Homo sapiens: one gene and its partners. The protein of the gene in region 2 interacts with the protein of the main gene of each other region in a biochemical or structural test. Each region holds a gene or a part of one and is shown on either strand. Other genes may lie near its edges.

Region 1 (7,553 bases), on a different chromosome or scaffold from region 2:
TCGTTACAACCTGCAGAGGATGTGTTATGGGTATCTAATGGGTAGAGGTAGGAATGTTGCTAAATATCCTACAATATACAACAGAGCCCCCACGATAATTATCTGGCCCAAAGTCTCAAAGTTCCAAAGCTGAGAAACCTTTCTCTAGAGCCATACTGTGCCAAATACTTACGGTCAATTTCAAACAAAAAGAATGCACCAAGTTCTCAGGAAATGTTTACCTACCTTGCCTCTAATACATACTGTTTTGTTTTGTTTCTTTTCTTTTTTTCTTGAGTCAGAGTCTCGCTGTCGCCCAGGCTGGAGTGCAGTGGCACAATCTTGGCTCACTGCAACCTCCGCCTCCCGAGTTCAAGCAATTCTCCTCCCTCAGCCTCCCGAGTAGCTGGGGCAATGGGCGCATGCTGCCACGCCCAGCTAATTTTTCATATTTTTTTTTAAGTACAGATGGGGTTTCACCATGTTGCCCAGGCTGGTCTCAAACTCCTGAGCTCAGGCAATCCACCCGCCTCGGCCTCCCAAAGTGCTAGGATTACAGGCGTGAACCACCACACCACGCCTTTGTTTTAAGACAGGGCCTCACGCAGTTTCCCAGGCTGGAAAGCAGTGGTGCAATCACAGCACTGCAGTCTCAATCTTCCAGGCTCTGATGTTTCTTTGATTTCAGCCTCCTAAGTAGCTGGAGTACAGGTGCATGCCACCATACCTGCCTAATTTTTGTATTTTTCGTAGAGACAGGGTTTCCCCATGTTGCCCAGGCTAGTCTTGAACTTCTGGGCTCAGGAAATCCACCTGCCTTGACCTTTGAAGTGCTGGGATTACAGTAGTCAGTCACCATGCTCAGCCAATACTTATCCTTAAATCTCTGAGTTTCTTAGTTCCCTAACCTTTCAACAAATTACATAACTGCATAGTCTCATTATTGGAAATTAAACATTAGTACCATCATTCTTTACTTTCCAGGTTAACTACCACCACATAAATCATATTACAAGAAAATAATATAATTTTTTCAAAGCCGTAAATTTAGTTCCTTAAAAATTCTACTTGCTCTTAGTTATCTAGGACCTAGTAGACATAAAGTCAGGTACTGGCTGGGCACAGTGGCTCATACCTGTAATCCCAGCACTTTGGGAGGCCGAGGTGGGGGATGGCTTGAGCCCAGGAATTCGATACCAGCCTGGGCAACATAGCGAAACCCTGTCTCTACCCAAAATATACAAAAAAATATTAGCTGGGTATGGTGGTGCACACCTGTGGTCTCAGCTACTTGGGAGGCTGAGGTGGGAAGATTGCTTGAGCCCAGGAGGTAGAGGCTACTGTGAACCGAGATTGCGCCACTGCACTCTAGCCTGGGTGATGGAGTGAGACCCTATCTCATAAATAAATAAACAAATAAATGTCAGGGACCAAAGTATCACATAACATATAAACAGCAGGAACTATCTTATCTGGGCCCCATATTTCAGGAGCCTCTCTATTGACTACTGTTAGGTATAACTCCTCCATATTTGTCTATTCATTCAAGTAAACACACTTACTGAGGGCCTACTATGTGGCAAGCAACTGGACAACAAAGATAAGATGAAAATATTTTACCAGCCTAATTAAAAAAACAGCTAAAATAAAAATGATATGTGCTATAAATAGAAATATCAAATAAGTGTTATGGAAGCTTGCAGAGAAGAGAATGCCAAGAAAAGCTTCCCAGAAGAGGGTGATGCCTGAACTGAGAAAATGTCACGGAAAACATACCCTGTTCACGCTTTACTATTTAGACTACGGTTCTCTTCTGCACTACTAGTTCTGAGTTTATGCTTTGTCATCTATACAAGAACAAAGTAACAATCTTACTGATGTGTACAGAACCAAGTGTCAACTAATTCAATTTCATCAAATCTGAAGAGTCAAAAAGAATAATTTTACCCAAGTATTTCCCAGTACCTTTATCCTGTCCAACCTCTAGTTTTGGTTTTTAAATACCCTAACTTCCTCCACCAGGTAAACATACTGTAACCCAGTTAACTCGAGTTTCTTTTCGAATTTGTAAGACCGTCACAGGGAATGATCACTGCTCTCTTTTTGCTCTTTATTCCAGTTAGCTTCTTCCTCCAAAACGGAGTTTTATTTCCTCACCTTATTCTACTATAATACTTCACTTTGAATTCTGTACCTGAAAGGAGCCATGAGTTCCGAGGTACAACTACTACAAACGGACTCCTACCTGGCTTTCTAAGTCTTATCAATATTTCCTGCTTTCTATTCCAGTACTGTTATAAATCCCTAACTGACTCCGAGTCCTCATCAGCTGACACAAGTCAAAAAATTCAGATTTAGAAAGGGAAACAATGGCTTGTAGTTTTACCGATTTGTTTCCGATACATAACAACGCTGACGTTCTTTAACCATCTTCTAAGTTTAGTTCTCAAGCTCTAGGTTAGGGTACCACTAACGAAGCTTCCACCTTACCCGTGAACAGAGCTGGTAGCAACTAAACGGAAAACGCTGTGAAGACTACATCTACGTTTAGCTACCTAATGTCCATGCCGCACCGACCTCCTAAAGGGAATTCTTAATAATGGGAGACTGAAATATCCAGGGAGGGTGAGGTAGTAGAAAACTGTTTAGACTGTCAAAAATCTGGCATTGGCTAATCCTGCCTGTTACTCCGGGCCTCGGTTTCCCCATCTACAAAACTGATGTAAGGTAGGGGGATTGACTTAAACAATTTCTAAAGTCCTTATGGCTATAGTAATCCAGAAACTCAATCTGTCTCCTCATCTGGCTTTACACTGAACACGTGGGAAAATAGAAAAGAACCTTTTGCTCCACCGAACCGACTCCTATTCTCAGATATTATCTTAAAAATCTCCCAAACTTCGGACTCACCCTAATCCTCGGGGTGCCCACTTCCCTTATGGAGAAGCCAAGGCAAATAAAGCCCAGTCCCACATGACGGTCAAGGAAGTGCGGGGCAGACCGTATTCAGGGTTTCAAGGCGCTGACCCCGGAAAGGCCAGCCCACCGTGGGGTCCTTACACCACTGAATGAATGAGTACAACCAGACAGACACCCACTCGCGTGGGCAGCAACTGGAGACCTCCAGGCCTAGACCCCACTGATGTCCATTCTCTCCCAGGGCCTCCAAAGCCGGGCCTCCCGGGCTCCGGGCCCCCGGGTCCTCAGCACCGCCCCTCTCTCAGGCCAGAAGGTGCGCGCAGCGGCGCTAGACTTCGAAGCGGAGAGGCCCTGAGACGCCCCGCGCGTCCGCCCGCCCGGAAGGGGGGAGAAACCTGCCGGTCTCGGCCGCTGCAGCTCGGGCTCCCGACTTACCGCGGTTCGGTGGGGAAGGGGAAGTGTCAGGAGTCCCCTGCTGCCACCCGCCGCTCACAGAGCAGCGCGCGGCCCCCACGAAACCGTCGCCGCCGCCGCTACCACCCCTGCCACCGACCGCCGCTTCGGGCGCAGCGCGCAGAGGGCCCGACTGCGTCACACGCCGCCCGGCGTCAGAGGCTCGTTGCGGACGCTCCGCCCTCGCCGTCCGCGAATTGGTGGACGCGGCCGCCACTCTGGGTCGACCCTGTTATTCATTGGGCAACGCGTCTTTTGAAACCGAACTGAAGGGGGAAGGGGCGAGAGGGAAGAGGAGGGGCAGAAGGAGTTCGGGGAGGCACAGGGTAGGAGCGGTGAGAGGGCCGTGGAGTCCCGCCCCTCGCCGCCGCGGTTGGCGGGAGCGTGTCGTGACGTCACACAGGGCCTCTCGAAGTGGGCTTGTGAATGGCTAGATTGGGAAGCACCGGCGGGGTGTCGGGAAGGGTGGTGACGCAACATAGAGACTCCGCCCCCTTCCTTGGAGCGCCGCGACTCGGGCTGAGGGAGCTCGGGCCAATCAGAGGGACGGCCCCAGAATGGCATGGTAACTATTCGACCCTTTCCTTGCCCCGGTCCGCCGGCGCTGCTGGGAAGGCTTCCTAGTCTCTCTGCCCGCACTTCCCGCCCAGACCACGTGCGGAGCCTGAGGGCCCTCTTGGAAGGTCTGTCTGTCCAAAGAGTTTGCCCGAGGCTTCTTCAGGGCCCTAAATCCTGACCCTATTCTCTCCTGACCCATGCTCGCCCCAGCACTTTCTTTCCCTCCCTGAATTTCTAGGATGGACATTAGGAGCATTAGAGATGCCCTAAGGGACTGGCCCACCAAAGGGCCTGGTACAAATGAGGATTGTTGGAACGTCTTTCCCAGCTGCACGTGGAGAACCCCTAATTCTTTTTTTTTCTTTTTCTTTTGAGATGAAGTCTCGCGTTGTCGCCTAGGGTGGAGTGCATTGGCGCAATCTCGGCTCACTGCAACCTCTGCCTCCCGGGTTCAAGCGATTCTCCCGCCTTAGCCTCCCAAGTAGCTGGGATTACAGGCGTCCGCCACCAGGCCCAGCTAATTTTTGTATTTATAGTAGAGACGGGGATTTCACTGTGTTGGTCAGGCTGGTCTCGAACTCCTGATCTCAAGTGATCCACCCGCCTCGGCCTCCCAAAGTGCTGGGATTACAGACGTGAGCCACCTCGCCCATGAACTAATTTTTTTTTTTTTTTTTGAGATGGAGTCTTGCTCTGTCTCCTCTTTCTCCCAGGCTGGAGTGCAGTGGCACGATCTCGGCTCACTGCAATCTCCGCCTCCCAGGTACAAGAGAGTCTCCTGTCGTAGCCTCCCGAGTAGCTGGGATTACAGGCACTCGCCGCCGCGCCCAGCTGATTTTGTATTTTTAGTAGAGATGGGGTTTCACCATGTTGGCCAGGCTGGTCTCGAACTCCGGAACTCAGGTGATCCGCCCGCCTCGGCCTCCCACAGTGCTGGCCTTACAGGCGTGAGCCACCGCGCCCAGCCGAACCCCTACTTATTCTTAAAGGACGGGTATTTCAAATGTTCCCATCTTCTCAGTGATACATTTGCCAAGCTTTCACAGCGAGTTGAGCTAATGCTTGGGCAGGCCTCTGTTAAAGCCTTGTCACTTTGTATCCTATTATTTACCCTCGGTTTTCTGTGCCTTGGGCTCTTCTTGGAAGTCCTTCTGGGGCCTAGCCCATTAGCAGAAAACTGATATTACAAGAGTGAAAGGTGGGCATTTTCTAGAAACTAGACCTGTTTAGTGACTGAGAGTCTCATAGCAGGAACTGTGCGCAGAAAGCAAAGCGTATACTGGCCGGGCTGGTGGCTCATGCCTGTAATCCCAGCACTTTGGGATGCTGAGGCGGGCAGATTATTTGAGGCCAGGAGTTCGAGACCAGCCTGGCCAACATGATGAAACCCTGTCTCTACTAAGAATACAAAAATTGGTCAAGCATGGTGGTGGGCACCTATAATCCCAGCTGCTTCTCGGTTTGCTGAGGCACGAGAATGGCTTGAACCAGGGAGGCGGAGATTACAGTGAGTGGAGATCCTGCCACTGCGCTCCAGAGTGATCTCAAAAAAAATTTTTAAAAAACCTCCACCACTACTCCTTTGTGAGACATGAATGCAAAATTGAACTGGGCTTTTACCTAAAATGTAAATGAGTTTAAAGCCATCTGGGTTTTCGGTGATGGCAAGGGATTAGAGATAATTGATTTATTTGTTTGTTTAAAAAATGGGAGACTGGGAGTGGTGGCTCACGCCTGTAATCCCAGCACTGGGGAGTTCAAGGTAGGAGGATCACTTGAACCCAGGAGTTCGAGACCAGCTCGGGCAACATAGTGAGTCCCCACCTATACAAAAAATTAACCAAGGCCAGGTGTGGTGGCAAGCGCCTGTGGTCCCAGCTACTAGGGAGGCTGAAGTAGGAGGATCGTTTGAGCCCAAGAGGTTAAAGCTACAGTGAGCTGTGATTACAGTCATGCCACTCCCGCCTGGGCAACAGACGGAGCCTCCGACTGGGGGAAAAAAAAGGTGGTGGGTTGTAAAGATGGAATAAGATAGTGGATGGAAGAAACACGGTACATTGTAGGTGCTCAGTAGATACTTGAAGGAAGAAGAAAATCAATATATGGTTGGCCAAATAGTAAAGTTACTTTAAACAACTGACTGCAGCCATCTTCCCCCAACTCCTCCATCCAAAACACCCCTACTTTACAACCACACTCCCTTGCCTTTGCTGGACTTTAGAAAGTCATTAACTCTCCCTAGATAGTTACAGTAGCTTCATAACTGCCCTCTGGAACATTTGATTTCTTGCCCTTTAATCTCCAAGCCCAATTATTTTTAAGGCTCTCTTCTACTGACTTATTTTGGTGTCCCTAAGGCAGGGCACATAGTAGGTACACATTAGATATTTGATGCACGAATGAGTGAATTATTTTCTTCAGTGGGGGATTAGTAGAGGTGTTGGACTTTGAGTCAGAGAACCCTGGTTTAAATTTGGATGCAGATTTAATTTAATTCAGTTTAAATTTATTTATTAATTTAATTTAATTCAGTTTAATTTAATTAAGAAATTTGGGCCAGGCGGGATGGCTCACGCCTGTAATCCCAGCACTTTGGGAGGCCGAGGTGGGCGGATCACGAGGTCAGGAGATCGAGACCAGCCTGGCTAACAGAAGGAAACCCCATCTCTACTGAAAATACAAAAAAATTAGCCGGGCGTGGTGGCACATACCTGTAGTCCCAGCTACTTGGGAGGCTGAGGCAGGAGAATTGCTTGAACCTGGGAGGCGGAGGTTGCAGTGAGCTGAGATCGAGCCACTGCACTCGATCCTGGGCCACAGAGTGAGACTCCGTCTCAAAAAAAAAAAAAAAAAAAAGAAATTTAGGCAAATTTCCTGCCGGGAATGGTGGCTCACGCCTATAATCCCAGCACTTTTGGAGGCTGAAGCAGGTGGATCACCTGAGGTCAGGAGTTCGAAACCCGCCTGGCCAACATGGTGAAACCCTGTCTCTACTAAATATACAAAAAATTAGCCGGGTGTGGTGGCTCATGCCTGTAATCCCAGCTACTTGGGAGGCTGAGGCAGGAGAATTGCTTGAACCGGGGAGGCAGAGGTTGCAGTGAGCTGAGATGGCACCATTGCACTCCAGCGTGGGCAACAAGAGTGAAAGTCTGTCTTCAAAAAAAAAAGAAAAGAAAGGAAAGAAAAAGAAATTTGGGCAAATTTCCTAATCCCTCTGAACCTCAATTTTCTTTTGTATAAAATGGGGATAACAACCACATTTGCCTTACAGGGTCGTAGTGAGCATTAAAAGAGAGAATACATTTAAAGCACTTAGCATAGTACCTGGCACAGATAAGGCCTCAATAAATGGTATTGTTTGCATTATTTAAAAATGTATCCCAGCCGGGCATGGTGGCTCAAGCCTGTAATCCCAGCACTTTGGGAGGCCGAGGCGGGCGGATCACAAGGTCAGGAGATCGAGACCATCCTGGCTAACATGGTGAAACCCCGTCTGTACTAAAAATACAAAAAATTAGCCGGGCGCGGTGGCAGGCGCCTGTAGTCCCAGCTATTCGGGAGGCTGAGGCAGGAGAATGGTGTGAACCCAGGAGGCGGAGCTTGCAGTGAGCAGAGATCGCGCCACTGCACTCCAGCCTGGG
Region 2 (7,000 bases):
TCACACATTAAGTAGTTTCCTTCTCTACACAGTGACATTAGTTGAAACAAACGAGTGAGGAAGAGAGGTCTGAGGAGTGTATGTTGAATTAGGAGAAGTCAAGTTGGTTTGATTTTATCAAGATTACATCTAGACCATCTGTAAATAAGTAGGATTTGAATCTTTCTAGACAGACAGGTAAGGCAGGTGGGGAATTCCTCTCCCAATCAACCAATCACAGACCAAAGCCTTCTGAGAACAGCTTCTGATCCGCATCATCTATACCATTTTCGAGTTCTGTGTGTACACGAACTTGTTATACTGAGATACTAATAATTCTCCAACCTGGAGTTATTAAGTCATAAGGCACCACCATACCTGAAGAGTTGCACAGAGTAAAGACTGAAGGTCATTGAACTGGATTCTATCGGATGTGCTCTGGATATGTGACTACAAAGAAAATAAGAAAACATACTCTACATGAAAACCTTCCACTTTTGCTGGGACCATTTAATAATCTTCCCTAATACTAACATAGGAAAGTAAACAACAGCAACAAAAAACCCATAATACATATAGTGTAACACATATATGAGTAAACCATGACAAACAATGCTAACGTTAAGGTGCAATGTTTTTTGTATAAGCTTTATTATCTTTCTGAGAAAATATATACTTAAACACTAAAAAGACAGAACAGTCTGGAAAACAGACCTAGGTGTCAAAAGTACTACCCAATTCCCACCCATAGTCAGGGGCACTCTTAGGTCTCACCTCCATCTGAAGAACCTGTTGCAGTCGTTCCATGATGACCAAAGTCGTTTTCTGGACAGCAGGATAACAATCCTTGGCACTGTTTTTCACAATTTCCATCAGAGATTCATATGCAGAACTCCTCAGGTTGTTCTGGTGTCCATCAGGTCTGTAAAGAACACAGCGAAAATCTTAAAGCCTCAAATGAAAAGGACAGGGAAGAACATAGACAATGTCTTGCCAAAAATAAGAACTCAGGAACCGGTATGTCTGCAGACCTGGTTTGAGTTTGAAAACACAATATCCAAGAATGAAATCTTCAAGTCCTTTGAGCCAATGGCTATGTTCATTATGGTCTCCAGACAGTTAAAATTTAGAATGGCCCTTTTGGAAATGGGCTAAAATTATAGAGGAAAAAATGGTTTGAAATGGTAAAAAATCATGTGAACAATTTAACAGGTTGTCTGAAGTGCTATGAAGAAAATACCCCAATTTTCCTGGCTAGACGTGATGGCTCATGCCTATAATCCCAGCAATTTAGGAGGCTGAGGCAGGCGGATCACTTGAGGTCAGTTTGAGACCAGCCTGGTCAACATGGTGAAACCCCACCTCTACTAAAAATATAAAAATTAGCCAGGTGTAGTGGCTTGTGCCTGTAATCCTAGCTACTCAGGAGGCTGAGGCACGAGAATTCCTTGAACCTGGGAGGTGGAGGTTGCAGTGGGCCGAGACCGCACTCCAGCCTGAGCAACAAGACCGAAACTCCGTCCCAGAAAAAAAAAAATACCCCAATTTTCTTCATTCATTTAAAAAAGATGTCTTCATATATAATCTCAAAGAGGCATGGACATGAACTAGTTAAATGGAAGATTTTTTTTTTGATGGGCACAGTGGCTCAGGCCTACAATCCCAGCACTTTGGGAGGCCAAGGTGGGCAGATCACCTGAGGTGTCAGGAGTTTGTGACCAGCCTGGCCAACATGGCGAAACCCCATCTCTACTAAAAATACAAAAATTAGCCAGGCATGTTGGTGGGCACCTTTAGTACCAGCTACTCGGGAGGCTGAAGTACGAGAATCACTTGAACCCAGGAGGTTGCAGTGAGCCAAGATTGCACAATTGCACTCTAGCCTGGGTGACAAGAGAAGACTGTCTCAAAAAAAAAAAAAAGGAAGATTTTGTGCTCAGCTCTCTTCCTGAAGGTTTACTTTGCTCATGACTTTAGGTATAGCTCATACAAAACATAAATTGTTAAAGGTTGTCTCCAACTTATAATCCCTTTAAACAACATTTCAAAAGCTTGTTTCTAAGTCAACTGTATTTACCCCAAGTTCTTCATCCTATATAAAAATATGGTAGTTGGCCGGGCATGGTGGCTCATGCCTGTAATCCTGGCACTTTGGGGGGCGAAGGCAGGTGGATCACGAGGGTCAGGAGATCGAGACCATCCTGTCCAACATGGTGAAACCCTGTCTCTACTAAAAATACAAAAATTAGCCAGGCATGGTGGCATGCACCTGTAGTCCCAGCTACCCAGGAGGCTGAGGCAGGAGAATCGCTTGAGGAGGTTGCAGTGAGCTGAGATTGCGCCACTGCACTCCAGCCTGGGCAACAGAGCAACACTCTGTCTCAAAATAAATTAATTAATTAATTAATAAAATAAAATAAAAATGGTAGTTATTGATTTGGTGTGGCAATCAAATTCATAATGAGTACTATCATTTCTCTTGTAACCAAATACTCCTGTTAACTGTCAATGCTGCAAAATGAAGGAACCTCTCTAGATCTATTACTCTCTACAAAGAAAGCAGAGAAATTACACTATATTCAGATTTCAGCTGTAAACTGAACAATTCTAAGGTAGGTGGAATCTGCATTTCTTTCTCCATCTTTAAACAAACCAATCAATCAATCATGGAATTCTTTTTTTTGAGACGAGTTCCACTCTTGTTGTCCAGGCTGGAGTGCAATGGCGCAGTCTCAGCTCACTGCAACCTCCATCTCCCAGGTTCAAGCAATTCCCCTGCCTCAGCCTCCCAAGTAGCTAGGACTACAGGCATGCGCCAGCACGCCCGGCTAATTTTTTGTATTTTTAGTAGAGACAGGGTTTCACCATGTTGGCCAGACTGCTTTCGAACTCCTGACCTCAGGTGATCCAGCCGCCTTGGCCTCCCAAAGTGCTGGGAATATAGGCGTGAGCCACCGCGCCCAGCGGGTTTCTTTTAATTCCTCTAGAGAAGGTAGAGTCTTGTCCTGTCTCATTATGCTTCTATGATTAAGCTAGATATCCTCCACACAGAAGGCAATAGAACTTGGATGCAAAGACGTCACTCATTTCTGTGAAATATCAGTTACCTGTCTGTAGTCTCTAGGAGCTTCTGAACTATGAGTTCAAATGAAGAAGATAAGCAGTAAGTAGCTGGTTCTTCCTGATCATCAGCAACGTCTGCAGCTTCATAAGCAGCTTCAGCCAGACTGGAGAAAGCCTGAAATGCACATAGGTTCAATGTTAATCCTGAAAGAACCCCACACCTTAGGATTATCTCATTTTTCATTAAGATACTTTGGGCCGTGTCAGTGAACTTCCAACTTTTTCTGCCAAGGTCATCTCAAGACAGCATTTTACAGGTATCTTTTAAACTAACTATTTATTTATTTGATTTGTACTTCCTGTTCATCCTGTCTGATAATCTGACAACTCTCTAAGCAGCAGAGTACTTTCACCAATACCTGCCATTTCTTCTGTTTCCAATCACAGAAATCCTGTCTGATAATCTGACATCTCTCATCATCCTGTTTGATAATCTGACAACTCTCTAAGCAGCAGAGTACTTTCAACCATACCTGCCATTTCATTTCTGTTTCCTTTCACAGAAAGACGTTTAGCCCCATTCCTTCCTTATTTGAACTTCCTCCCCTTAACCAATTACATTAGCCTATACTGACTCAGCATTTAGGCTGCCTACCTTCCTTCCCTCTTGCCCTCTACTCAGCAATGATACTTCTTACAGCCAAAAACTCTCTACCTTAATCAAAACTTCTTGTCCCCAAGCAATTCAAGAAAGCAACCCAAGTCCAGATAGTTTCCCCACTGGGTTACCATGACTGTTCTAAGTGGTTCAGGAACCAGTAACCATAAGTCAAGTGTTCCCACTGGCTCTTGCAGTTGGAATCTCCCCCACATTTTAATTGAATAAATTAGAAAGAAAATCAGAAAAAGCATTCCAGTGAGGCAGATTGATTTCTCTCCCACACCTTCTACTTTCTTGCCAGTGGCGCAGGCAAGCTCCTTTTCTCACCAGCAAGAAAATCCCTTACCCAGCACACATTTGAAGCCACTCTGGGTTCAGCACTGAGACCCTCAATCAGACACTGTAGCAGGGGAGCCAAGTAGACATCATTGATGGCAGCTTCAGGAAGCAGCTCACAAATTCTGCCTACAGTCCATGCAGCTGTATCTCGAACAACTACACTGGGGTCTTTCATTAATTCTATTAGGGTGGGCATAGCCTGAAAATATAACAGTTATTAGCAAAGCAAAACAAAGATTAAAATTCATGTTAACTACTACCCCAGAGAAAGAAATACTGATGGATGGCTTAACTCAAAAAAGTCACCAAGATACTTCTGTAATTTTACAGGACATGGTGTGAAACATCTTTCAAAATATTTGAAAATATCTTTCAAAACTCCAGTTTAGAGTTTTATATTAAGAATTTGGTGTAAATGCTTTTAGTAGTCTGCAATAAATTACTCAGATAGAGGCCGGGCATGATGATGGCTCATGCCTGTAATCCCAGCACTCTGGGAGGCTGAGGCAGGCAGATCACTTGAGGTCAGGAGTTGCTTGAGGTCAGGAGTTCAAGACCAGCCTGACCAACATGATGAAACCCGGTCTCTCTACTAAGAATACAAAAATTAGCTGGGCATGGTGGCACATAGTCCCACCTACTCAGGGGGCTGAGGCACGAGAATTGCTTAAGCTGGGGAGCTGGAGGTTGCAGTGAGCCTAGATTGCACCACTGCACTTCAGCACTCCAGCATGGGTGACAGAGTAAGACTCCATCCCCCCGCCTCCCTACCTCAAAAAAAAAAAGAATTACTCAGATACTCAGAATTCTCAGGATGCAGCTATGATGGCATCTGGCTATATCCAGAAAGACTGAAGACTGAATTCTTTAAGCACTAAACTCAACTATAACAAACTCTTTTTTTTTTTTTTGAGATAGAGTTTCGCTCGTTGCCCAGGCTGGAGTGCAATGGCACGACTTGTAATAGCAAAACAAGCACAACATTTCCATAAGAACATTTTCATTACATAAAGGACATTTTGTCCAAAGAATAGAATAATAATGCCATTATTAAAAATTATGGGGAATCAGTGCTAGGTGCAAAAAAAAATTATTGGGAAATGTTTACAACATAGTATTAAATGAAGAAACAAGTTATAAAACAATCTGCACAGGAAGAGCCTGTTGCACACACATGCACATAGGAAAAAGCTTCAAGGATAAATACAGAGTTAAGAGTGGTATTTCTGGGCAATGAAATTAAAGATGACTTTTCTCTTTTGGCTTCTTTCACATGTCTCTGGATCATGCTGACTTATGTAATTAAAAACCTAAGAAATATATTTTACCCTCATTAAAAGTAAACAAGTATCTAGAGATAATCTTTGTAGATGACAATTTACAGTTTTGTTTTGAAAAATAAAGATATGCTTTAAGTTTAAACAATAAATATCCTACTTTCTACTCCAAAAATCCCTCAGTTTCACCTGTATAACTAGTGGTTTGAGCTGACTGGGCTCTGGTCCTTCCAAGATACAACCAAAAGCCATCACTGCTGCATCCCGGTACCGCCAATCTGGGTTCTTGATGTGTTCTTTAATGAAGGGGAGGACATGTGGGACAATGTCATCTTCACAGCAGGTGGCCAGAAGCATGAGGCACACCCCTGCTGCTTTGCAGGGGTTCCAGTCATCGTCATCATCATTTTCGTCCTGGTGAAAGAATATGGCACTAGTTAAGATTTTGTCCAAAGAATCATTTTAACTCTAAAGGTCCTCTGACTACTCTTGAATGTCTTTAGAACTTAAACTCCAGGGAAATAAAATATAAGACCTTTATATTTTGTCTCTTCCACAAACATTCATCACAGCATAGCCTTTGTTAAACAAGATTCAGATGGAAGAAGATTCCATTTAGTACTACACAACAAGAATGAAAAAATTTCAACTACATCCAAAAAGAATGAATTCCAAACATTTAGAACAAAATACAGAACTAGAATGTATGCTGTATGATTCCAGTTATGTAAAGTCCAAAATCGGCCAGGCGCGGTGGCTCATGCCTGTAATCCCAGCACTTTGGGAGGCTAAGGTGGGTGGATCACCTGAGGTCAGGAGTTTGAGACCAGCCTGGTCAACATGGTGAAACCCCATCTCTACTAAAAATACAAAAATTAGCTGGGTGTGGTGGCACGTGCCTGTAGTCCCAGCTACTCAGGAGGCCAAGGCAGGAGAATTGCTTGAACCTGGAAGGCGGAGGTTGCAGTGAGCCGAGATTGTGCCACTGTGCTCCAGCCTGTGTAACAGAGTGAGACTCTGTCAGAAAAAAAAAAAAACATAGTATTAAAAATAATAATAAATAAAGTCCAAAATCAACAAAAATTAACCTATGGAATAAAAGACCAGGAAAGTAAGGGAGTTTCATGACTGGGAAGAAGACATGATTCAATCAAAAGTTCAAAAAAGAGGCAAGGTGCAGTGCAGTGGCTCATGCCTGTAATCCCAGCACTTTAGGAGGCCAAGGCAGGCAGATCACTTGAGGTCAGGACTTCGAGACCAGCCTGGTAAACATGGTGAAACCTCGTTTCTACTAAAAATACAAAGACTAGCTGGGTATAGTGGCACACACCTGTTAATCCCAGCTACTCGGGAGGCTGAGGCAAGAGAATCACATGAACCAGGGAGATGAAGGTTGTAGTGAGCCAAGACCGCCCCACTGCACTCCAGCCTGGGTGATAGAGCAAGACTCTGTACCCCCCAACGCCACCCCAAAAAACCAAAAACCAAAACCACAAAAGTTCAAAAAAGAAAAGATTCCACTAATATCTCCTCTTAAGTTAGAATCCAAGGTATAGCTTCCTAATTGTGGCCATTCACACCACATAGTAAACTTAAGGCAGGTTGCCTATGCAGTTTCAGAAAATCACACAAAGAATAATTTGTTCTCAAATAGGAAAAGCACAATAAAAATATAAGAAAG
Region 3 (8,205 bases), about 20 Mb from region 2:
GCATATTGTGAGAAAAACATGTAGGAAAGGGCCCAGATGAAAGATAAATTTGAAAATCTAAGTTAAGTCTACTTTATGGAAGGCCTTCATAGAGTAGGGATTTCTTAGAGACAGGGTCTCACTGTCACCCAGCATGGGGTGCAGTGGTGCAATCACAGCTCACTGCAGCCTCAAAATCCCGGGCTCAAGTGATTCTTCTGTCTCAGCCCCCTGAATACCTAGGACTAAAGGCCGGCGCCACCACACCCAGCTAACTTTACTTTTTATAGAGACGAGGTCTTCCTATGTTGCCTAGGCTGGGCTCAAACTCCTGGCCTCCAGTGATCCTCCCATTTCAGCTTCCCAAAGTGTTGGAATTACAGGCATGAACCACCATGCCCAGCTGGAGTATGGATTTATTTTATTTTTATTTTTTTCCTTGAGACGGAGTTTCACTCTTGTTGCACAGGCTGGAGTGCAATGGCATGATCTTGGCTCACTGCAACCTCCACCTCCCAGGTTCAAGCAATTTGGAGTATGGATTTTAAGGAGCGAAAACACAGGTCTAAAGCAGTACTTCAGGAAAAATTTCAGGAAAATAGTATATGGCATAAAGAAGGATATGATAAATTAGGAGGCTACTGTAAATATTTCAGAAGGAAAGTCCTGAACAAAGCTGGTGACAAATACAAAAACATAGAGAATACCAAAAAAGGCAGAAATAAACCAAAAACGGGAAGGGCCTGGTGGCTCACGCTTGTAATCCCAGCACTTCTGGAGACCAAGGCAGGCATATCACGAGGTCATGAGTTCAAGACTAGCCTGGCCAACATGGTGAAACCCCGCCTCTACTAAAAATACAAAAACAGGCCGGGCAGTGGCTCACGCCTGTAATCCCAGCACTTTGGGAGGCTGAGGCGGGTGGATCACGAGGTCAGGAGATCGAGACCATCCTGGCTAACATGTTGAAACACCGTCTCTACTAAAAATACAAAAAATTAGCCAGACAGGGTGCGGGCGCCTGTAGTCCCAGCTACTTAGGAGGCTGAGGCAGGAGAATGGCGTGAACCCGGGAGATGGAGCTTGCAGTGAGCGGAGATCGCACCACTGCACGCTAGCCTGGGCGACAGAGCAAAACTCTGTCTCAAAGAAACAAAAACAAAAAAATACAAAAACTAGCCAAGCGTGGTGATGCGCACCCATAATCCCAGCTACTCAGGAGGCTGTGGCAGGAGAATTGCTTGAACCCATGAGGCAGAGGTTGCAGTGAGCCGATTGTGCTGCTGCACTCCAGCCTGAGCAACAGAGCAAGACTCCATCTCGGGGGAAAAAAAAAAAAAAGAAGAAATAAACCAGAAACTGGCTGGCTCTGGACACACTGGTCAGGCCAAGGTACCCAGCTAGTAGCTAGAAATGCAGGGAAGTCTGAAGGAAGGTCAGAGCTAAAGGAAGATCCTAAATCAGCTTCAGTGGATTACAGAAGGCAGGAAAGAAGACAATTACTAATTGCAAACAGAGAAAAAGATGTTCACAGATAGTTAAAACCGTTAAGACTAGAAATGTTAAGTTTACTTGAATTTCTAAGAAAAGTCCCTACTGATTTTCTGGATTTCACGTAACTCATAAACTAAAATACATTTTTTACCTGGTTGTTGCGGTTTTCCTGCAGCGGAGAAGTAGCATCATCAGGAAATGAGCTTACATTTCTCCTCTTCAGCATCTGGTCATCCTTCTTAGCTTTCCTCAGCTCCACATTGACCTCTATTCTGCGACGCCTCATTTCCTTGAGAAAAGATAACATGCCGTTTCACCTATCACACCAGTTTTTGTTGCTAAGTGAGGGCATTTTTTTTTTAAATACCTCAGTTTTCACCCCTTTCCAAATGTCTTCCCATTTAAATACCACCACAGGAAAGCAACAGAAGGTACTCACTGTACTGTCTTTTCCCTTGTTCTTGAATCTGTGAAGACGGGCAGCTGGTGTATTAGCATTCTCGTTGGTGGACATGGTTATGAGACAAAGGGAGAAAGCTAAAAGATGGGGGAAGAGAAAAATATTTCCTTTATCATTTTCCTTTGTCAATAATAGTACCAAATAAGAACTGAATTATCAAGCATCTACTGAATCCACACCTGTATACTAGAGGGGGGATCATCATGTTTTCGGCACTATGAAATAGCTTTACCCAAAGGGGAAGTGTCCCCCTTCCCTCTAAAGGGCTGAGACTTCCTGGAGAGGGCTCTCCATCAGAAATAGAATGCAAGCTATATAAATTGAAACTTCCTAGTAGCCATATTTTTAAAAAGGAGAAAAGAAACAAGTGAAACTAATTTTAATAATGTATTTTACTTAACCCAACATATCCAAATAGTATTTCAACGTGTTATCAATATATAAAATAACTGACATCTTCTACATTCTTTTTCCATACTCCATCTTTGAAATCTTTTGTGTACTTTAAGCTTACAGCGTATTTCAATTTGGACTAGCCACATGTATCCACCGTTTCTGACAGCCTAGTTCGATACTCCAGAGTCCCTAATAGTTAATTCAAGACAAAGTAGGGGAACCAAGTCAACTTACAGCTAAAAATTATGTGCCAGGGCAATAAATTCAGATCCTCAGGAGGCTCTCCCTATTTTACTGTCTTTACTTGGCCAAAATAGGTGCAGACTCGAAAATTAAATAAAAATTTGCTTCATCATTACATTATGGTCAACATTAAAAATGCAGTGCCGCATCTCGCATATTTGATTTGCATTTCCAGAGACTAGGAGTGAATGCGCTTAATTAGGATGACATCAGCTGTGCGTCATTCAGAAGATGACAAAAGTCAAAGCCCTCCTTACAATTTGCTATCTTTGCTTTCATTACGCTCGCCTACGACTTGGTGGCAGAGCCACCCCCGGGGCCTAGGTGTCAGAGACGGTGCTCCCAACTGCCACCCCCAGCCCCTGCCCCCACGCCGGGGAAGATGCAACGAGAAAGGAGGAGGCGAAACCAGGGCCGCCACAAGTCCTCCCGGGACATTCGCCCTCAAGCCTGGCTCGCTCCGATTCTCCCGGCCGCGACGCGTTAAGGCCTCCGCTGCCGTTTGCAGAGCGTCGGCGCCCTAAACCCGCAGACCCCGCGAAACTCAGCCGCCTGGTCAATGAACGTCGCCCCCGAGGCCTAGTCAACGCGGGAGGCAGAGCCAGGCTCGGCGTGGACCCGGGGCCTCCCTCCCCCAACCCAAAAGGCGAACGCCGCCCACGGGCAAGCCGTTAGCGCTCGGGCCGGGCCGCCGCCTGAGTCTGTACCTGCGAAGCGGGCCTGGGCTTCCACGGGAGGCGATGCGGGGGGAATCAGCGGCTGTAGGGCGACTGCGTTCAAAGGGTCCACCTCGACTCAGCTCAAAGACCGTGTGGCTCGTGCAGCCGGCCGGCGCGATTTAAATTTCCCGGTGACTCCGCATTCCGATTGGCTGGTTCGAGCCTAAGCTGTGTGCCCATTGGTGGATTTGAAAAACACGTTGGGAGGGGAGGGAGTCATAGGGCTTGGGGGCGAGTGGGAGGGGGGAAAGAAAAAAAAAAAAAGAGGATGGCATCGCGAGATGAGGGAGCGGCCGGGCGGTGAGGGAGCGGCCGGGCGGTGAGGGAGCGGCCGGGCGGTGAGGGAGCGGCCGGGCGGTGAGGGAGCGGCCGGGCGGTCCCTGAGCGCCTGGCGGGGCGGAGCGGGAGGACTCCAGATCCCGTCAAGCAGCGCGAAGGGGCGGTTCCCTGGGCCGTTCGTGTTTCCATAGGGTTGAAGCGTGCATGGTCCTTGGGCGTTTTCCTGGGCGACAGCCTTAAACAAATACCACAAAATGATTCTCTAAGTCATTATTTTAAAAACTTTGTTGTTGATCTTCATGAAAATAAAAAAATTCTAATTAGTAAATAAGTAATCTTTATAGAAAAACATATTGCTTTGCATTTTTTTCCTATTATGACACCCAAAGTACTCGGCGGGGGTTTCTGGCTACTATGGGAGGGAAGATTTGTGTTATATTTTTTAGTTTAGTTTTTTTTTAATTGCATCATAAAAGACTGTATAGAAGCCGCAAATATGGAAACAAAAGGTTTCTTATGCCTGTTTCTCCAAAAACTCAAGTTTTTTATTTTTAAATAATTTCAAATGCAGCAGAATTGCAAATCTTTATCCAGATTTGCCAAATCTTAACATTTTGCCACATTTGCTATTGCTTTCTCTATACATATATATGTATACATATGCACGCGTGTACATATGTGTGATTTTAATATGTTACTTTAAGAGAAAGTTTCAGAATCATGTCCTTTTTCCTCTGTTTCACGGTGTCTCTCCTAAGAAAAGACATTCTCTTATATAACCACACTGCAGTCATCAAATTCAGAAAAACTGAAATTTCATGCTGTTGTTTAGTATGTAGTGTGTGTTCAAGTTTTTTCAATTGTTATAGTAACATTCTATGCTCATTACACATTTCTGAATTTTGCATTTTTTGCCATATGCTCAAACGAACAAACAAAACAAAGATGGTCAACAGAGCATCAGGATTCTGGGCCATTTTTGTTTCTGCAATTTTTTTGTGTTCTAAAAGATTACATTTTAGAAAAGTTTTCATGGTTTATTTCTTACTATAAATAAATTCAAACAGCAAGTTTGTCCATTTTTGCAGGCATTAATGCCAGCCTCATTCATCGTAAAGCCAGAGTTCATAAAGGGTTGGACCTACTCTTAATCAGCATAATCCCATCCCCCTAAATGCAAGAATGTGGAAGGAATTCACCCCTAAACCAATCACTGTGTGGCATTCTCTCAGCTACTGAGAATGGTTCAGGGGCAGGCACATGACCTAAATTCATCCAGTTGGACAGCCTCTGCCTTTTGTTTACTGGTTGGAGGTAGGAAAGCAGCCTCTGTTCTTCTGAACTAAGGGATGTGAGTCCTAGAAATCTGAATAAGAAAACTGTAGGGAAACCTTGAGAGGTCTGACCTGCTCTATCTCTGAAGGTTTGCAGGTAGGAGATCCGATACACATTTCTTTTGTATTGTCAAGTTGAGTTTCTTCTCTTTTTTTTTTTCTTTTTTTTCTTTTCTTTGAGACAGGGTCTAGCTCTGTCGCCCAGGCTGGAGTGGAGTGGCACGATCTCAGCTCACTGCGACCTCTGCCTCCTGGGCTGAAGCCATCCTCCCACCTCAGCCTCCCAAATAGCTGGGACTATAGGTACACACCACCACGTCCAGCTAATTTTTGCATTTTTTGTAAAGACAGGGTTTCACTATTTTGCCCAAGCTGGTCTCGAAGTCCTGAGCTCAAGCAATCCACCCACCTCAGCCTCCCAAAGTGCTGGAATTATAGGCCTGACCACCATACCAAGCCAAGTTGAGTTTCTTTTGCTTGAAAATACTGACTACTATGTGCCCAGAAGTGTTCTGAGTGTTTACCATATATTAATACACTTGATCTTCACAACTGTGAGGTAGTACTGTTATTTGCTCTATTTCACAAAAGAGAGCACTGAATCACAAGTGTTTATGTAACTTGTTCCAGGGTCACACAGCCAGTAAATGGCAAAGACAGGATTCAGCCATAAGCAGTCTGGTTCCAGGATCTGTGTTCTGAACCACTATTCTGTACTTGCACCTAAAAACAACCTGAAACAGAAGTATAATGCCCAAAATTGCCTTTGAAAGATACGATATCGTCGGGCACAGTGGCTCACACCTGTAATCCTAGCACTTTGGGAGGCTGAGGTGGGCAGACCACCTGAGGTCAGGAGTTCAAGACCAGCCTGGCCAACAAAGGGAAACCCTGTCTCTACTAAAACATACAAAAAATTAGCTGGGCGTGGTGGCAAGCACCTGTAACCCCAGCTACTTGGGAGGCTGAGGCAGGAGAATTGCTTGAATCTGGGAGGCAGAGGTTGCAGTGAGCCGAGATCACACCATTGCACTCCAGCCTGGACAACAAGAGCGAAACTCCATTTCAAAAAAAAAGACTAGCCTGTCCAACATGGCAAAACCCTGTCTCTACTAAAAAATATAAAAAATTAGGCAGGTGTGGTAACACACACCTGTGGTCCCAGCTACTCAGGAGGCTAAGATACAAGCATCACTTACACCTGGGAGGTAGAGGTTGCAGTAAGCTGAGATGGTGCCACTGCACTACAGCCCAGGCGACAATGCAAGACGCCGTCTCAAAAAAAAAAAAAAAAGTCCTATCATTTATGACCAAGTTTTAGCTGATGTGTTAGTCCACTAGCATAGTCCGCTTAGGTTACCATAACAAAGTACTACAGGCTGGGAGGCTTAGATAACAAACATTTATTTTTCTCACATTTCTGGATCACGAAATCTGAAATAAGGGTGCCAGAGTGGTCAGTTTCCAGGAAGGGCCCCCCTCTTTGGCGTCCAGATGACCATCGCCTAATTGTGTGCTAGCATGATCTCTTCATTTTAGCACAGAGAAGGGAGAGTGAAAGCTCTCTGGTGTCTCTTCTTTTTTTTTTTTTTTTAGATGGAGTCTCGCCCTGTCACCCAGGCTGGAGTGCAATGGCGCGATCTCAGCTCACTGCAACCTCTGCTTCCTGGTTTCAAGTGATTTTCCTGCCTCAGCCTCCCAAGTAACTGGGATTACAAGTGCATGCCACCACACCTGGCTCATTTTTGTATTTTTAGTAGAGATGGGGTTTCACCATGTTGGCCAGGCTGGTCTTGAACTCCTGACCTCATGATCCACCCACCTCAGCCTCCCAAAGTGCTTGGATTACAGGCATGAGCCACTGCGCCCGGCCTGATGGCTCTTTTTATAAGGACACTAATCTCATCATGAGGGCCCCACCCTCATGAATTCATCTCAACCTCCCAGAGGCCCCATTTCCAAATACTATCATACTGGGAGTTAGGTTTTCAACATATGAATTTTTGAGGGGGATGCAAACATTCAGTTCTTAATATCCATTCACCAGCCTGGGCAACATAGCGAGATGCCCTCCTCCAAACCACCATCTCTACAAAAATTAAAAAAAAAAAAAAAATTAGCAGAGGCTGGGAGCAGTGGCTAACGCCTGTAATCCCAACACTTTGGGAGGCCGAGGCAGGTGGGTCACTTGAGGTCAGGAGTTCAAGACCAGCCCAGCCAACATGGTAAAACCCTGTCTCTACTGAAAATACAAAAATTAGCCAAGCGCGGTGGCTCGTGCCTGTAGTCCCAGCTACTCGGGAGGCTGAGGCACAAGAATCGCTCGAACGCAGGGGCAGAGGTTGCAGTGAGCTGAGATTGTGCCACTGCACTCCAGCTTGAGCAACAGAGTGACACTCTGTCTAAAAAAATAAATAAATAAAAATAAAAAATTAGCCAAGCATGTTGGTATATGCCTGTAGTCCCCGCTACTTGGGAGGCTGAGGTGGGAGGATGGCTTGAGCCTGGGAGGTGGAGGCTGCATTGAGCCGAGATTGTACCACTGCATTCCAGCCTAGGTGGCAGAGTGAGATGCTGTCTCAAAAAAAAAAAAAAAAAAAAATCCATTCAGATTATCTTCCTTCAAAATATGAATGTTGAGTTAAAACATGCAAAGAAAGAAAGAAAGGGGCCTGGAGCTGAGCTGGCTGAAAGACATAGGACCACCAGCTACTGAGGCTGAGGCCCTTTAGTTACTGTCTTTCTAGGCCGTCTTGTAAACTCATGTTTCAGTTCTGTGAACTATACAACATCCCTCAAACACACCACTTTCTCAATTTTTTCTTCTTTTTGAGACAGGGTCTTGCTCTGTCATCCAGGCTGGAGTGCAGTGGCACGATCAGAGCTCCCTGCAGCCTCAACCTCCTGGGCTGAAGTGATTCTCGTACATCGGCCTCCCAAGTAGCTGAGACTACAAGCATATGCTACCACGCCCAGCTAATTTTTGTTTTTTTTTGTAGAGATGGGATTTTGCCATGTTGCCCAAGCTGGTCTAGAACTCCTGGGCTCAAGAGATCTGCCCACCCCAGCCTCCCAAAGTGCTGAGATTACAGGTGTGAGCCACCGTGCTCAGCCAAATACAGCCCTTTCTGATTTGAGTGTGGCAGCAATCCCTAATTCTCCACCAAAACTCATGTTTCACCTTCCATTTGGTCTACTTGTTGCTGGTAGATGGGTGGATGGGTGCCTAGCCAGTGACTCTACTTTTCAGTTTCCTTGGATCCAGGTGAGGCCATAAGTCTAGTTCAAGTGAAAGTAATGT
Region 4 (7,727 bases), on a different chromosome or scaffold from region 2:
CTGTACTTTCCATTCAATTTTGCTATGAACCCAAAACTGCTCTAAGAAACTGTCTGTGTGTGTGTGCGTGTGTCTGCGCACACGCATGTATGTGTGTATTTAGACTTCCCACCCCAAGAGGGGACAACCAATCTCATTTATGGATACTGGTGAGATTTTTAAGTTTCACTCCTTTCACTCTATTACTTCAATGGATGCATTTAGACTTTGGGTGAGAGAGAGAGAGAGATTTTTTAAAACATAAATATCTCATCAGTATCCATAAATGAGATTCGTTGCCCCCTCTTAGGATGGAGAGGGGATTACATTTGTTCTGTTGGGAGAGACTCTTTTTTTTTTTAAACACAAGCCTCAAATGTCCCTCTAAAGAGTCTAATTAATGTGTCTGAAGCAGACAGACACCTCTGGGTTTTTCTTCCTTTTAAGATCCCCAAGTGGGCCAGGCACAGTGGCTCACACCAGTAATCCCATCACTTTGGGAGGCCAAGGGGCGGGCAGATCACTTGAGGTCAGGAGTTCGAGACCAGCCTGGCCAACATGGTGAAACCCCGCCTCTACTAAAAATACAAAAATTAGCCAGCATAGTGGCATGCACCTGTGAGTCCAGGTACTTGGGAGGATGAGGCATAAGTATGGCTTGAACCCGGGAGGCAGAAGTTGCAGTGAGCCAGGATTGTACCACTGCATGCCTCAAAAAAAAAAAAAAAAAAAAATCCAAGCAAATTCTGATATGCATCTGCAGTTGAAAATCACTATAGTAGAGCAAAAGTTTTATTTTAAAACAATGTAAAATACAGTTGAAAATGAAGGCTGAAGTTGGACTGAAGATAGCTTTGATAGGAAAGAAAGGAAATAAATCTCTATGTCTGTAATAAGAGGAATAACAAAGTAATTGTATGAGAAAATTAGTTTATCCTAAGCAAATATTTTTAGGTGTTATCACCTAAGCTACTAATTAAAAATTGTAAGTTACTTTTCAAAGTACCCTCTCAGGAATCAGAAGCCTTCAAAATTAAAGCCATTATACCTAAATTTCCTCTTGTTTTCTAGAGAAATAAAGCCAAAGAAGCAATAAACTTAAAAACAAGATGCAATACTGGTGGTGAAATAGAAACACACTCTTTCAAAGACAGATCCCCTCACTTTCTCCTTCATGTCTAGTTACTCAATTATCAAATTTTGCTTATTCTATCCAAAGTCTTTGATTTTATCTGATCCGATCTATTCCCACTGCCACCAGCCTGGCTCAAGTCTGTGTCAACTGACACCTAGATAACTACAACAGCTCTAAACCAGCATTCTTAACCTCAGACTCTTTGCTCCTCAATTCATCCTACACAGCCCTCAGATTAATCTCAACACCCTTTTCACTGTATCACTTCAATGGATAAGGAACTACAACGTTTTTAACCACTTCTTAGAACAAGTCTAAACTTCTTGGTCCTGCAAGATCCTTTTGTCTGGATTCATTCAATACCATTCTCCACCACTCTAAACCCAAAACAATGAGTGTAGATCTTTTTATATTTTTATTATATTCAAGATGTTATATATTCAGTGCACTGGGTCAGCCCACCTAATCAGTAAATCTCAAACACATTCTAAATGTTCTGAATATTTAAAATCCATAATACTCTTGTGGAACAACTTGAAATCCTAATATACTTAATTCCACCATATAAATCAGGCATAATTTTATTAGAAAGTATATGATATGCATTTACTATTAAAAACCAAAACTACAAGAAAGTATGACTACAAAAAAGTTATGAATTTAAATAAGTGGAGTATAAGTATAAAGTGTTCAGTTCATTTGAAAATATAAATTATTGATGTTAACAGCTTCTAGTCAAACGATAGTAGGTCCGTTTAAAATATTTTAATAGAAATTAGAAAAGAAAATTAAAATTTGAAATATCCTACCCATTCTTTTCCTATACGATAATTAAGGAGTAGCTTTATTTTTATTAAGAGCATTTCAGTGTTCAATGAAAGCAAAGTTTGAAAAACCCTTCAATAAAGCTTTTCCTGTGAGAAGTCAATGTGGCAGACATATGATTCATAGGTGTTCATCTCTGGCCTCATCTTATAGCTCTAACCAATAATCCAATGGCAATACATATTTTCTTTCACAGCCCAGTTTCAAATGTTTTCCTTTGAGAGGTTTATCATAACCTTTGCCCCAAATTCTGACCCCCAACTCCCAGTATCTATAGGTTCCCAAGCTGGGAAGTTCTCCAAAGACATTCTCAATATCAAAACACTTAAAGGAAAATATCTGTCAAGGATCTGGAGAACTCAAACCCTGAATTGAATACTTCCACTTTTAGAATGTACATAAAGGAAACAAAACTAGTAGTATGTGTAAGACTGTTCACTGCAGTGTGATTATTCTAGTGAAAAATTGTAAAAAACCTAAAAGTTCCAATATGAGGGCTTGGTTAAAGGAAATGTTCACAATGTATTGAGAAAACAGAACACTAACATGAAAAATCTGAATGCTGGGAACAAAAACCCAACCTACACTATTCTCTATACTTTCGAAAAATATTTCGTAACTTAAGAAATCAGAATATAGCTGGGCGCAGTAGTTCACACCTGTAATCCCAGCACTTTGGGAGGCCAAGGCGGGCGGATCACCAGAGGTCAGGAGTTCGAGACCAGCCTGGCCAACATGGGGAAACCCCATTTCTATTAAAAATACAAAAATTAGCCGGGCGTGGTGGCGGGCGCTTGCAATCCCAGCTACTCGGGAGGTTGAGGCAGGAGAATCACTTGAACCCAGATGGCAGAGGTTGCAGTGAGCTGAGATTGTGCCATTGCACTCCAGCCTGGGCGACAGAGCAAGACTCCATCTCAAAAAAAAAAAAAAAGAAAAGAGAAGATATCAGCATATAAAATTTGAATATGGAAATATTATTTTATCTTCCAAATTTTCTGTGATAAGCAATATACTGATTATACAAGAAAAAAACTTTCAAAAAGTAGAGCTGAAAGCATATGTTTACTATGATAAAGCTTATCAACCTACCTAAAACACTGAATTTCTATACTTTTCACTACTATTTTTTCAACTGAGTATGCTGTTATTTCTTCAGAAGTTCTGATCTTTATGGTCTTTATGAAGGAGAAAAATTATCTCTTATCTAAAAGTTGAATGATTTTTTGGGGGGTTAAAAAAAAAAAAAGACAAATCTTTCCAGAAGATGACATAAAGGGTTCGTTCCCTCAGTAGTAAAAAAATTTTTAATCGCAAAAACTTGCCTTCATTCAATTCATATCCATTAATGAATTTAATAACCACTGTAATATATCTGTTTTAAGAACACTTATGAGGGTTTTCAAATTTCAAATCAGGAATTAGCACATATAGACTGCACTTTTCTTCCCATATCATATTAACTCAAAGCCAGAAATTCAATTTTAATCTTCAATAGGCACACAGTGGTCATTCAAATGCTGTGAAAAAATGAACAGAGGAGAAAACAAAGAGTTTATGTAAAGAAATAAAATGGTAGACATGGTAGAATACTAAAATTATAAAGAAATTTTTTTTTCAAATAAATGAACCAGAACCACGGCATAAAGAGAATAGGTAAGCAAAAGAATCAGAGATGGTGTCAAAACCTAAAAGAAGCCATAAAATAGACAAATTATATGTCACTAGCAAAGTGGAAAACTCTGAAGCCTAACCTGCAAACGAAGAAGGCAATAAGAAACAAGCTGATTCACACTACCTACCCACAAACAGGATGCTTCAGACAGATCATCCAGGTACTATCCCTCCTTAAGGTAGTGAGGAGTTGGGCTCAAAATCAGAAGGTTTGTTGAAAGTCTACAAAACAGCCATCACATGCCCAGATTTCCTCCTCCACTCTTCACAACCAGACAACCATCCTTCAGTAATCCCTTCAAATGGGTGCTCCAATGCAGGTGAGGGTGGGGGTGAGGTGCCTTATTGATAACAGAATTACATGAGCACAACAGTAAAAACCCAAGCTCCTTTTCTAAAATGAGTTCTCAAAACATGGCAGCCAGACACACATTCTCCTGGCAAGAGACTGGAGACTCTCAGGGAAACTGACTAGCCCAAGAGAAACAAACCTATGAGTATATGCCCTCCACCCACCACAAAAAAAATGGCCACCAGCTACTCTCTTCACCCTTCAACAAGCCACACTTAATAGAGCTTCCAATTCAGTTTTTGGCACTTCATTCTTAAATATGAATGGACAGCCACAAGACTACCAGACATCTGGGGAAAGCCTCAATAAAGAAAAGACAACAATGGTAACAAAATTTTTAAAACTATCATTAATATCCCCAGAAAGAATACAGCATCTATGAAACAACACAAATATACTATAAAATAAGAATGAGAGGCTGGACGCGGTAGCTCACGCCTGTAATCCCAGCACTTTGGGAAGCCGAGGAGGGTGGATCACTTGAGGTCAGGAGTTCAAGACCAGCCTGGCCAACATGGTGAAACCCCGTATCTACTAAAAATACAAAAATTAGCCAGGCGTAGTGGCGGGCCCCTGTAAACCCAGCTACTCGTGAGGCTGAGTCAGAACAATGGCTTAAGCCCAGGAGGCAGAGGTTGCGGTGAGCCAAGATCATGCCACTGCACTCACTTGGGCAACTGAACAAGACTCTCTATCAAACAAAAAAAAAAAAAAGAAAGATAAAACCAAGTAAAGGCAAACATGTGAGCAAAAAAGAACTCTCAAGCACTCAAGTAGGCACATACACTAATTCTCCCACTCTATGCCCAAGGAATCACAATCTTGGGTATATATCCTAGAGAACTTCTATACAGGTCTATAATAATGTACAAGAGTATATATAACACAGGGTATTTGAAATAGCAGAAAGGCAACTCAGGGATCAATTCCTAGGGAATGAAAAGTAAAATGTGGTAGATCTGCATTACAGAATTCTACATTAGACACAACTATACATACTTACAACAAAACAGAAAGATCCCCAAATCAATGTTGAATAAAAAAGAAAAAGACCTTTGCAAGGTCTATAACACAATACCTAAACATACACAGCTCCACTACATATTTTACAATGTTTCATATATAATCAAGGAATGTACCAACCACAATGTTATACAAAGAGGTAACAGAAGTAGGGCTCAGAAATTTAAGATAAAAATTTAAAGGACCTTGTACGATCTGATGTGTGACAAGAACTGAGAAGCATAATTCATTCTAAAATTCTTTTTGCCTAACATCCAAATAATAACAAAAACTTTCGAGAACTAAAGGACATGAACTCCCAGCTTATAAAGGTCCATGGAATGCCCTTAAACAAAAAAATACCCATACCTAGACACATCATCATGGAATTTTGAGGGTTAAAAATATCCTAAAAGCTTCTAGAGATTGGGGTAAAGGAAGATCACATACAAACAAAGAATCAGATTGGCTTTGGATTTCAAGAGTAACCCTGGAAGAAAGAAAACAATAGAACTATGACTTGCAAACTTGAAGTAGAAGTTACTTTCAACTCAGAATTTTATACCCAGACAAATTACTGATCAAATGCGAAGGAAGAATAAAGATTTTTTTCAGTCATGTAAGATGTCAGGAAGTTTTTGTTTTCCATGTATCCTTTCTCAGAAAGCTACTAAAAAATGTACTCCAAGGAAATAAGTAAACCAAGAAAGAAAATACAGGAAACAGTAAACAGGGGAACCAGTACAAAAGAGGGCAAAGAAGTTTAAGGATGATGAAAAGAGAAGTCCCTGGATAACAACTATGAAATAGGCCTAGAAAGTAACCAGTCCTAATTGCATTAAGAGGTTCCAGGTTAGCTGTCTCAGGAAATGAAGCAAACAACAACAAAAAATACTAACTTGTAGAAAAACAAAAATTTATTAAGAGAAGAAATGATATCACAGTACTCTACATGGGTCAGCTGTGAACATTTATAGAGTTACAATATTGTAAACACTAAATATTGGTTTAGTAGACACACCTGTGATAACTATATTTGGAGGATGGTAGAGACAGTGTGTGCATATGGCAGGTGAGGTGAATATATATGTGAAACACTAAGGAACATCTTGCTTAGACGAAAGCCAATAATATCTATAATTGCTATATCATGATATAGCAATAAAAGCAAGTCACTGTATTTATAAATATGAAAGCAAACACAAGAGGAAACAGCTAGAAGAAAGAAAATGGTAGCTTTTCAAGTGCAGAGGCTGGGACAGGGAACAGCTGCTTTTCAGGTATTCTAATTCCAAAATTTTATTTTTTTAATGTTGATAAAACAAGGAACTTGAACAATCTCACGACGGTTATATTAGATCTTCAGTATTATTTCATGGTGTTAAACTACATCTAGTTTGTTCTGCCAAAGAGACTGAACGGCTAAAACCAATCTTTAACGATCAATGTGAACACAGTACAAACAGCCCTATTTGAATCCCAACTCCACTACTTTGTGAAGTAAGGCGAGTTACCCAATCACCTTGCACACGTAATCACCTCCTCAAAATGGTTTTGCAAGAACAAGTAAGTGAAAGCACCTGATGCAGAACCTGACCCATCAATAGATGTCAGAGTACTTTCAGCGGGTCTTTCTGTTCCCTAGCTGACCCCAAGCTGCCTATTCTGACCCCAAGCTGCCTATTCTGACCCCAACCTGCCTTGTTGCTCACAGAGTATATAGGCACTCATGGACTCAGCACATATCCCTCCTCACGCTGGAAAAACAATCATGATGAGTAAGCAGACTTATCTTTGTATATGAAGGGCAGCATTATTCTTGTTAATATGAAGGAGATTATCTCCATTATCCACATTCTGGATTACTGCCTGCTTTCAAGAACTGTCCCAATTAGTCTACAACACTTGGACAGAACCATTTTTTCATGTTGTTTTGTAGGTTTGTAACATCTTTAAAAAAAAGAAAGAAAGAAACATACATTCCCACAGTCTTCATCCCTACTCTTCCAATGTACAACCTCAAAATTTTCTAATGCAGGCCCTATCTGGCCCTCAGTTGGCCTCAGGCCATCTCCTGCTTACTGCAGCAAAAGACAGAAATCAGCCCAAATCAGCTAATTTAACTGTTTACCATTTCCAGTGTTTTCTTCCCTATTATGGCTAAATTCATAACACCATGCAAAGTACAAAGATACCTTAAAACAAAACAAGGAGTTATCTTTATCACTAGGTCAGTCATCTTTACTTGCAAGACCAATCAAAGGTCTTAACTGATTTTATACACAGTACTCATACATCTAAAAACAATCTGGTAGACTTAAAAGCACAGACATCATAAATCATTAAAACTCTATTTTATCATTAATTCAACAAACACTGTGCTAAAACACTGAAGATGCAAAGAATAAGATATAATCCTATTCTCAAATGTAAAGGGAAAAGGGAAAAGGTAAAAGGACCATTGAGAGCAACAGAGAATAAAGAAAATAATGCAAGAAACAACTGACAGCAATTCCAGGTTACGTATAAAATAATTCTTAACATAGTTGAGACTAAAGAAAATTATAAAAATTGAACACAGCTCTGAGACTCCTGACAGTCAAAGTATAGAGAAACAGGATGGCTTACAAAACAAAAATAATCTAATAAAACCAATCATTAGTTTAAAAAAAAAAAGCTTAATACTGGGGTCTTAGGAAGAATTTGTCTCTAAGGTCTGTATTTTATAGGAACCAATACATAAATTAGAAATTTCTTCAT

What was found.
Region 1: the proteins of KPNB1 (region 2) and NUP98 form a complex in vitro, tested with the Homo sapiens proteins (3 studies listed by BioGRID).
Region 3: the proteins of KPNB1 (region 2) and KPNA2 form a complex in vitro, tested with the Homo sapiens proteins (6 studies listed by BioGRID and IntAct, with this or other methods).
Region 4: the proteins of KPNB1 (region 2) and KPNA1 form a complex in vitro, tested with the Homo sapiens proteins (6 studies listed by BioGRID and IntAct, with this or other methods).

What each region holds. Positions count from the first base shown.
Region 1 is NC_000011.10:3,794,067-3,801,619, forward strand, and holds the start of NUP98 (nuclear pore complex protein Nup98-Nup96 isoform 1 precursor), read right to left. Parts: upstream 3,489-7,553; 5' UTR 3,334-3,488; intron 1-3,333. Other genes in the region: acyltransferase PGAP2, read left to right, coding at 3,914-3,916. UniProt on the Homo sapiens protein: Plays a role in the nuclear pore complex (NPC) assembly and/or maintenance. NUP98 and NUP96 are involved in the bidirectional transport across the NPC. May anchor NUP153 and TPR to the NPC.
Region 2 is NC_000017.11:47,666,919-47,673,918, reverse strand, and holds part of KPNB1 (importin subunit beta-1), read right to left. Parts: intron 5,734-7,000; coding exon 5,509-5,733; intron 4,242-5,508; coding exon 4,050-4,241; intron 3,218-4,049; coding exon 3,087-3,217; intron 902-3,086; coding exon 754-901; intron 430-753; coding exon 358-429; intron 1-357.
Region 3 is NC_000017.11:68,030,915-68,039,119, reverse strand, and holds the start of KPNA2 (importin subunit alpha-1), read right to left. Parts: upstream 3,386-8,205; 5' UTR 3,280-3,385; exon of another isoform or gene 2,564-3,279; intron 2,011-2,563; 5' UTR 1,988-2,010; coding exon 1,913-1,987; intron 1,763-1,912; coding exon 1,625-1,762; intron 1-1,624.
Region 4 is NC_000003.12:122,504,583-122,512,309, forward strand, and holds part of KPNA1 (importin subunit alpha-5), read right to left. Parts: intron 1-7,727. UniProt on the Homo sapiens protein: Functions in nuclear protein import as an adapter protein for nuclear receptor KPNB1. Binds specifically and directly to substrates containing either a simple or bipartite NLS motif.